Regions from separate parts of the Homo sapiens genome. Here region 2 is linked to region 1. A link means that fine-mapping ties the variant in region 1 to the expression of a gene that starts in the linked region. Tissue or cell type: tibial nerve. Region 1 holds a variant in brackets; the other region holds the start of a gene. All regions are shown on one strand. Distances are from middle to middle.

Evidence for each region. PIP is the estimated chance that this variant, and not a neighbour inherited with it, causes the effect.
Region 2: it holds the start of IGFBP2, and the variant in region 1 is fine-mapped to the expression of IGFBP2 in tibial nerve (GTEx, PIP 0.92).

The regions. Positions count from the first base shown.
Region 1 is chr2:216,546,517-216,551,820 of GRCh38, reverse strand. No RefSeq gene overlaps it. Among named protein-coding and RNA genes, the nearest start is that of RPL37A, 50 kb to the right of the region's middle. The variant T/C (reference allele first, on the strand shown) is at 2,876.
Region 2 is chr2:216,631,150-216,635,149 of GRCh38, reverse strand. IGFBP2 (insulin like growth factor binding protein 2) reads right to left here and starts at 1,730. Exons shown (of 4, transcript NM_000597.3): 1 at 1,185-1,730. The coding sequence starts at 1,626.

The DNA.
Region 1 (5,304 bases):
TACAATCTTTTAACAAATATTTATAGAATACCAACTATGTATCTAGGACTGTTATAGACACTTGCAATAAAGAGAAAAACAAACAAAAGCCCTGCCCCTGTGAAACTTAAGTGCTATGTTTTTGCACACCACGCCTGGCTAATTTTTTGTATTTTTGGTAGAGATGGGGTTTACCATGTTGCCCAGGCTGGTCTTGAACTTCTGGGCTCATGTGATTCTCCCACCTCGGCCTCCCAAAGTGCTGGGATTATAGGTGTGAGCCACGGTGCCTGGCCTATTCCTCTTTATTTCCTTTTTCCTTTATATATTCTCCTCATCCATGCTTGAGTGTTCTATTTCTCTCTCGTCTAATGTAATCTAATACAATGGAATATTTTTCTTTGGGATCATGGGGGAGGTTCTCACGTCTGGGAGCCTGGCCAAGGTATATGTATTTACAACATCTGAGTTCCATTTCAAAAGTTTGTTTCATGACCCTGTTCCTTTGATTACAATCTAATCCTATGTATGGGCAGGAACATTTTCTGCTGCAGCACCAGCCTTGAAAGAGACATATTACCAGCTATCACAACCTCCTCCCTGGTCACCCAGTTCAAAGACAACACACACACCCCTAGGCCTCTTCCTACCAAGCAAAATTTTTAGATGAACCACGCTTGCAGAAAAATAAATAAGACATTTTCAAAGAGACATCAATCTTAAAACTTGCTCTTAGCTTCTTTAAAAAAGAAAAAAGAGTGTTAGAGTAGATCGGTCTGAGATTTAAGCTTTCAGGTTGTGATATAAAAAAACATGTATGAGTTCAGTGCTAGCAATGATATTAAACATATATCAGCTTTGTGTGTCTAATTTTTTTTCTGATTCAATGCAATTTATGAGCAGCCTACACCCCACTTTGGAATAGAGGCATGGAATAGTGAAAGATGCTTCACCATAAGCAGCCCTACTTTCAAATCCTAACTCAGCGACTTAGTGGCTGTGTATGCAAAACTATTTCTCCAAGCTTCAGTTTCCTCATCTATAAAATAGAGACAAAAAATATCCAACTCTTAGGGTTGAAAGAATTCAATGAGATAAAGTCTTAAAGCTCTCAACAAATGTTAATTTCTCCCATACGCACATCCTTGCATTGTGTGCAGTTAAGAGAGGCTGCAAACAGGCATTACCAGACCCTTACCATCAAAAAGATCACAACCTGTGGAAAGATAACATTTAGCAGTATATAATAAACTGCAGAATTGGTGCTAGGTTGGAAATAGTCAACACGGAAACAGTCAGGGCATAAAGGAGATAGCCCCTATCAGCAGGGCTTCTGGGAAGCCTATCAGGAAGGCTGCACAGAGATGGCCGTGAAGGGTGGGGAGGCTGGCACTTCAGGCTCAGGTGTGGAGGGAGAAATAGATTCCCATGCTTGTGGGAGCATAGGAAGATCAGAAAAGACTGACCCTAAAAGGTGGGGATGATGTGACAGGGAAGGGCCAGCGTCATGGCGTGGGGACACTGGAAAGCCAGGCAGAGGCAGGTGGCCATGATTTCATTTGAAATGGTATTCATTGTCAGCTTTGACACCGTAAGATCAGAGCTTTATGGAATGGAATGCTAAAGGCCTCCCCGCTCCCCAGACAAGAGGCAACCAGTGGGAGAAGGAGGAGCCAGTGGGAGGGGCATCCACAAAAGAGGGAGGGTGGTGGAGTCCACCCACTGCTCAGATGCAGCGGATAAAAGGGGAGAGGAATCACAGATGCCTCTTGGTTTGCGTCAGGAAAGCAAGCAAAATATGCCAACAACACTGGAGGCCCAGAAGTTAGAAAAGGGAGTTGCCTGAAGAAGAAAGAGCCATTTGGTCCATTTTGGACAAGTTTATGTGAGATGCCTGAACAAGAGCGCTGCGTGTGTGTGTCCTCTGGAGAGTGTGTACCCCTTAGCGGGAGGGCCTGCTTCCCCTTCTATTCCATTATACCCACTCCTCTCACTGTATTCCAGATTCATGTTTCTTAAAAACTCAGCTGAATTCATAGCTAGGTGTGCCTGGAAGGAGGAGATTATGCAAGCTGTCCCGAGGAAGCCAGAGGTGTGTTCGACCCCTGTGTTTCCTGAGTGTTAGTTGGATTCCTGAAGCCATCAGTTAGTGGTTCCCGAATGTTGTGTTCAGGTTCTCCCACCTTTTTTGAAGGAGAATAAGAGTTTCTAGAAAGGATCTGACTCCAAACCAGGCAAAGTCTCATGTCTTAGATGGAGTCAATACCTTAGAGAATATTAAAATTATTGGGCCCAAAGGTAACTTGGAGATATTCTTTAGATGCTCTTAAGAATACTGTTCTTGGATTATGTATATTCCAAATATCTTCTGTGATTCGTCTCTTCACTTTCTTTAAGGAACTCTTTGATAAATCGTCATAGGTACCATGGATGGGTCCTCCTGCGCATGCATTCTGACTCCAAGGAAGCCCACCCTTCTCTGCTGATGCAGTTCAGCATGGCTTTGGCTGGCAAAGTTGTGTTGGCTTCTGGGCACCAGAATAGCAAGCAGGCCCCGAGGCAGCCAACATCAGGAATCGAGAAAGGGAGTTCCAGATGGAAGCGGCAGAGTGTGAAGATGCTTGACTGCAGGCCAGCCCCATGGCGGGGGGAGAGGTGTGGGGGTTTGGAATGCCCTAAAAGGTTCCAGACCAGTGGCAAAGCTGCTAGAAAAGGCTGAGCCCAGACCCAAAGGAAAGCCTTGTGTCCAACCCCTATGTTAAGATATGGGGAATTACAGAACCCCCAGGACTGAAATCACCCTCCCTCTAAGAACATCATGTCCACTGTTCAGCCGTCTGCCAAGATTACCAAAGCAGAATTGTTTTTAACAGAGATGGTAATCCACCACAACTCC[T/C]GTGGGTCATTCATTCAGACCCCCTGCCTTCCACTGCCTTCTATGCAATGTTAAGAAGGGAAAGAAGTCCAACTTCACATTTTTCTGGACAATTTGAAGAAACAAACACAGAGGAAATGGTTTACATCAATGAAATGGATAAAAGCTGGAGAACAGAAAGAACTTCTCAGGAGTATGAGAAAGTGTGAGAGAACAATCACAGTCTGAACAGTGAGTCTCGGTATTCTTTTGTGAAAGAGCCAACTACACTAGGCCTCAGTTTCCCCACCTATAAAATGGAAAGACCATTCGCTGCTTTGCCTTACTTGACATTGAAAAGAGTAAAGCCCATTTGAGATGTTAAAGGCCTTGGCATGTTGAAAGGAAGTGTCTGCAGGGATCTATGAACTGAGAGGTTATCCAGCCATGGAGATGGGAAAATGAGGACTGTTCACCCTAGAACATCTTCCAGGGGGACCTAATGAGTAATGGGGCCAGAGTCATTTGTAATGTGCCACCGGACTGTGCTCATCCTCTTGGCTGCCAACACTCCTGCTTTCAGATGATAGCCCACTTTTTTCCATCAAAGGAACCACGACTTGACTACTCCCAAGGCTTGGTGATCCCAAGCATTCCAAGACCACCTGCTACAAGCCTCCATCAGAGCTATCAAGCAGCAACTGCAGACTCCTCCTGGAGGCAGGAAACAGTCACAGGCCCAAAGGGAGGTGAAGAGAGATCACTGAGGTGCTAGCTTAAAGCCTGGGAAGTGTGAAGCACCATCTCAACATGTAGGTTTCAACTGCAGTCTCAGTGAGCCCTGGAATCCCACTGGGGTGTCTTGGTCAGAGATTGGAGGAGGCCAGAACTGGTTCCGCATCTCCCACCCCTGCCTCAACCACAGCATCTCTGATGTTATTGGTCTTAAATATTGGGATGTTTTGTTTGCAAAAAGAGTTCTATGACTCTAAAAATGTTTATGAAACACTTGTCTGCACTAGTAAATTTTATTTTTAAAAAAAAGCATACAGAAGAAAAACTAATTGCACTTAAGACTTTAGAATCATATATCACATCCAACAGAAGAATTCTACTAGGAAAAATGCCCAAGCTGTTGCCCCCAAACTAACGTAACATGCTCATAAATGGCATCTGCCTTTATATTCTTGCTATTTCTTTATTTAGCTTTCCCCATTCTCTCAATTCCTAAGTACTAGAACAGGTAGAGATGCTGCTATTTAGGAAAATATTCCCTGAGTATCCTCCTCTAGGCCACTGCAGACCCTTCTCGCAGCTCTGTTTTGTGCATCTTCCATACTTAACACTTAGTACTGCAGGTAGATCTAGACTATGAACACCTTGAGGACAGGGATCATGTCTAATTCCATCAATCTATGTGGCCCATGTTTAAGCACAGTGCCAGTAACTCAGGAGGAGTTTGAGAGACCTGAATGAATGAATGAATGAATGCATGAATGAAGACACTTCTGCACAAATGTATAATTTCCTGGTTTCTCTTCTGTAAGTAAGTTAACATCTTCTATGTTTTGTTTTGTTTTTTCTTCTAGGTCACAGAGGGCTAATGCTGTAAATTCTCTCTCAGGGGAAAGCTGGGCAGACACACTTGGGAACATTTAAAAAACTAGGTTGGCATTGGAGAGGAAACAGCCAATATATTTAGCCACCCATGGCATGCCAAGGCCTTATCGAGACAGAAATAGGCACTGTAGGAGGAATCTCAATTAAATATTTTTCTAAGCAGTCAGCTCTGGGCTTTGCCTGAACATGGATAGAGAGCTGGGGTGAAGCACAGGACAGAAAGCCAAGAAGATCTCAGTGGGGCTTCTGAATCATCCTGGGGCTTAACTGCTAGCAATGTAAAACTGGTGACCCCAGGGGGCAGGGGTGCTGGCCTACCTTCCATGTCCAAGGAGCAGGACAACCTCCCTGCAGGCACTTTCCAGAATCCCACACATTTGGGGGACCCATCCTCTCCGCCATACCTACTCTTAAGTGGCAGCAAGTATCCGGAATATTCTTCCTATGAGCTTTACCCAACTGTTTCCAATAGTCAACACTCCCTAAGAATCGGTCTTATCCAGAAAGTACTCCTGGAATGACTTGAGGAGAAACACAATGACGCTTTGGGCATAGAATTCCACCCTGCAGCCTAGTTATCTTTTCTTTGTTAAAATATGCAGCACTTCAATCCAGAGACATAGGGACAACTGCCCTGAATTGACTGGGGTATGAGGATGGGCTCCAGTGCTGGGCAGGGTGAGAGTGGGAGGGGGTACCTGGCGGGGGTGCAGACAGTCCGGTGCAGAATGCACGTATGAATAATAACAAATCTCTCTTTTTTTTCATATGTGGGCTTTTCCAAATATGGAAAACAGCTTTTCCCACTTAAAAATGTATCATCAACTTTTTCCCATGTCATTGCATGTTCT
Region 2 (4,000 bases), 84 kb before region 1:
CAATAGCCGACCAGGAGAAGGGAGGCGGGTTGGTGCATGGGGTGGGGGGCTTACGAAGACCTCAGAAGCTAAAAAGCAAGCATTCTTCTTTTCACTTTTTCTTTTTAAGTTTGAGAAACTTAAGACTCACTTGCTTTTTCAACAACAGCAGCAGGCAGTGGACACATTTCACCACTGTCTCCAAGAGGAAAGAAAATAATTACAGCTTCCTCCCGACCACTGGGGCAGGAGGCTTTCGTAATTAAAAAAAAAAAAAAGTAACCTCCTTAGAGCCTGGTTGTGTCCCTCAAATAACTTTTTGGGAGGGATGAGGGCCCCTGAACAAAGAATATCGGGTCCTCATTCTATCCTACAGGAAAGGGTCCCTCAATTTAAGATAGGGGCGGGGGTGGGGGGTGGCAACGCATCTCTCCTGCCTTTCGATCTGGGGCCCAGATGCGAAACCGCACAGCCTGGCTGCCCCCGTCCAGGGAATGCAGCCGGCGATCGGGCTTAAGTTACATTGATTCAGCTGCTAGGAGACCCCTCGCCTACCAAATGCCTCCCTTTTATTTTTCCATTCAACGTGGTAGCAAGAGCCCTGCTCGTTCCCTATGGAGAAATAGTAGTGGTGGTTTTCATTTTTCTCCTAAGCGACTCATCCTACAAAGTACCAAGTCCTTTCTTTCCAACTCACAACCCCAGTAGAAGGAAGGGCCCCTTGGGACGCCGGTGCCTCCTCCTAGCTCCCTCTCCTCTTCCAAGGTTCCTGGTGTCACTGGCACCCCGCAGCCTCCGCCTCCCAGCAGCGATCCCACCAGGACCCTTGGGTCCTCAAGCAGTGCCCCAAATAAGATTCGAGTTCCTACTCCCATGGATCTGACCACCGGCCCCCTTCTCAGCAAATCCCTCCTCCAGAATAGAAGTCTGGGTCCGTTCCACGCGGGTAAAACTATGGCAGCAGGGATGCCTTTCCTCTCCCCATTCATCCCCACCAAATGAGTCGCCAGGGCTCTTCCACTTGCTCTAACTCCAGTTCCCCTCCCCGGGCCTGACTTCCGCGTCCCGCTAGCAACAGTCCCCCTTGATTTGGTCCAAGGTCTCGGCTCTGCCGCCCCTAAAACCGTCCGTAAGGTCCAGCCGCCCGTCGGGCTTCTCCGCTGCCCTCCAAGTTTCTCCCAACTACTTGTTCCAGACCGCGTTACCTGCAACCTGCTCCGGGCTGGCGCCATACTCGGCGTCCCGGCGCTTCTCACAAGTGCCCTCGCCCATGACCAGCGCCTGCAGGGGCAGCTCGGAGCCCGGGTGGGGATAGCAGCGCAGCCCCTGGCCGCAGCGCGGGGTGTAGACGCCGCACGCCTCGCCCTCCAGCCGGGCGCACACCGAGCAGCAGCCGCAGCCCGGCTCCCGGACGAGCTCCGCGCATGGCATGCGGGCGCCTCCGGCCACTGCGGCCACCGCGGCGGGCGGCGCAACCGGCGGGGGCCCGCAGGCGGCCAGGCGCTCGGGTGTGCAGGGCGGGCAGCGGAACAGCACCTCCGCGCGCGCCCCGCCGCCGCCGCCACTCGCGCCCAGTAGCAGCAGCAGCAGCGGCAGCAGCGGCGGCGGCGGCAGCGGCAGCGCGGGGCAGCCCACTCTCGGCAGCATGCTGGCGGTCGGCAGCGCGGCGCGGCGGGCGAGCGAGCGAGCGGGCGGGCGGGCAGGTGGCACGGCCCTGCGAGCGCGGGAGCCGCCTCCTCCGCTTCTTCCTCCTCCCTCGCCGCCGCAGCCGGGTCCTAAAGGGCCGGCTTCTCCCCGCCCCCTGCCTTCTCCCCTCCCCCTTTTGGAGACCACTCCCTTCCCCCCCGACACTCCCTCGCGCCGGCAAGTGAGTGCGCGCACGCCCGCTCGCCCACCTCCGCGTTGGCTGCGGGCTCTGGGGGTTCCCTGCTCTTCCCGGGCCCCGTCCCTCCGCACTCTTCTGGCCTGACTATGACTCCTGAAGGAGAATACGGATAACTCGCGGGTTTGGGTAGGACCGGCGTGGCGGTGGAGAAGAGCGCGTGCTTTTGTCTGCTCTCAGTTCAGTTCGCGAGGACTTCGTTTGCGCGCTTCCCCTGTGGCCGGCACTGGGCTAACCGCTGGGGAACACAAAAGACATAAGGCTCCGTTTTGACCTTCAAGTAGATTTCAGTCGGCTCATACCAACTCCTTCCATCCTGGGGTATCACCCACCACTGACACGTGGCTTGGAACAATGACTTCTTGTTGGGTGGGTCCTGCGGAGTTTCAGACCCGTCTAGACCAAGCTAGACCCAAACAGCCCCGAATGGTCTTAGTGACTATTGCAGTTTTCCAAACCTGGGAGCTCGTGACTACAACCTATGAGAACCCTAAGTGCCCCGCAAAACCTGCCCCCTTCGTCTGCAGACCCCCTCCCTTCTCCGCCCGCTAAAATAATCCCTTAGCACCCTGGGCCCCCACCTACAAATCTCGAGGCACTTGTTGCAGGACAGATCCCAGAACACTCAGTTGCAGGGGTCTTGGAGAGGTCAGATCAGCTCTCCAGGTGTGACAGACCCGCTCTGGGGTAAGGCCATTTATGGCTGTCTTCAATAATGCAGATGGACAAGCATGACCTCCTTTCATTGTTCTGTTTGATTTACTGAGTCATCTACCCAAGCTGCCCCCAACCCCCATCATTCCAGGCTGGACTCAGCCATAATCAACCATCTCCTGGGGTGTGACCCTAACAAAGACCCCTGTCAGAGAGATTCCTTGGGTGACAGGTGGACCATTAAGCTGCCTCCACCGCAGGTTTCATCTCCCTATACCTCAGCGCCCCTCTTCCCCCCAGACCCCTCCACTCTGGCTCTTTCTGACTTCAAGGCTCAGAGCCTGTTTGATTCAGTTCAACAGCTAGTTAACCCAATGGCCACCTGGCTCTGAAGGTGACCTAGATGCCTCCAGGAAGGCAAGTACCTGGTCTTAAGACGCCAAGCTGGGAAGAGTTATCGGGAAAGACTTTGGTAAGATAAAAAATAAATAAATAAATGTTTATCAGAGGCTTTGAAGAAAAGAAATATTTTGGTAGAGAGGTGATGTGGTGGTTGAGGAAAGGGGAGTTTCTTGGGTGAGTCGGAGCTGAAATTGAAGCTTGTAATTCTACCAGAGGAAATGGGCGGTTAGCAAGGGCACAGGCAGAGGGACCACCTGAAGCAAAAACACAGAAATGGGGCCGGGCGCGGTGGCTCACACCTGTAATTCCAGCACTTTGGGAGGCCGAGGCAGGTGGATCACCTGAGATCAGGAGTTCAAGACCAGCCTGGCCAACCGTGGCCAACATGGTGAAATCCCATCTCTACTAAAAATACAAAAAATAGCCAGGCACGGTGATGCACGCCTGTAGTCCCAGCAACTTGGGAGGCTGAGGCAGGAGAATCGCTTGAACCCAGGAGGTGGAAGTTGCAGTGAGCCAAGATCGCACCACTGCACTCCAGCCTGGGTGACAGAGTAAGAATCAGTCTCAAAACACACACACACACACACACACACACACACAGAGAGAGAGAGAGAGAGAGAGAGAGAGAGAGAGAGAGAGAGAAATGGGAAAATGAGTTTGGGGATCAGAAAGTCCACTTCAGCCAGAGTGCAGGATGCTTGCAGAGAGCAGCAGGGGAGGCAGGAAATCCAGTTGACTGTGGCGCTTTGGCTTAATATGCTGGGCAGTAAGGATACAGCATCCATGTTTGAGCAGAGGAAGAGATGGACAGAGCTGGACTTCTGGAAATCATTAGCACTATGTAGAGTGCCGATCTGAAAAAAAAGTAAAAAAAAAAAAAAATCGTTAGCACTATGTAGGGTGCCGATCTGAAAAAAAAAAAAAAAAGAAGTAAAAAGCACTATGTACAGTGCCAATCTAAAAAAAATAAAAATAAGACACAGGAAGGATCATGGTCATTCCACCTTCATTCTCCCTGGTGTCTCCTGCCTGCTTTGTAACGTGTTTCTGTTGGTCCCACCCACTGAGCTCCTACAGAGT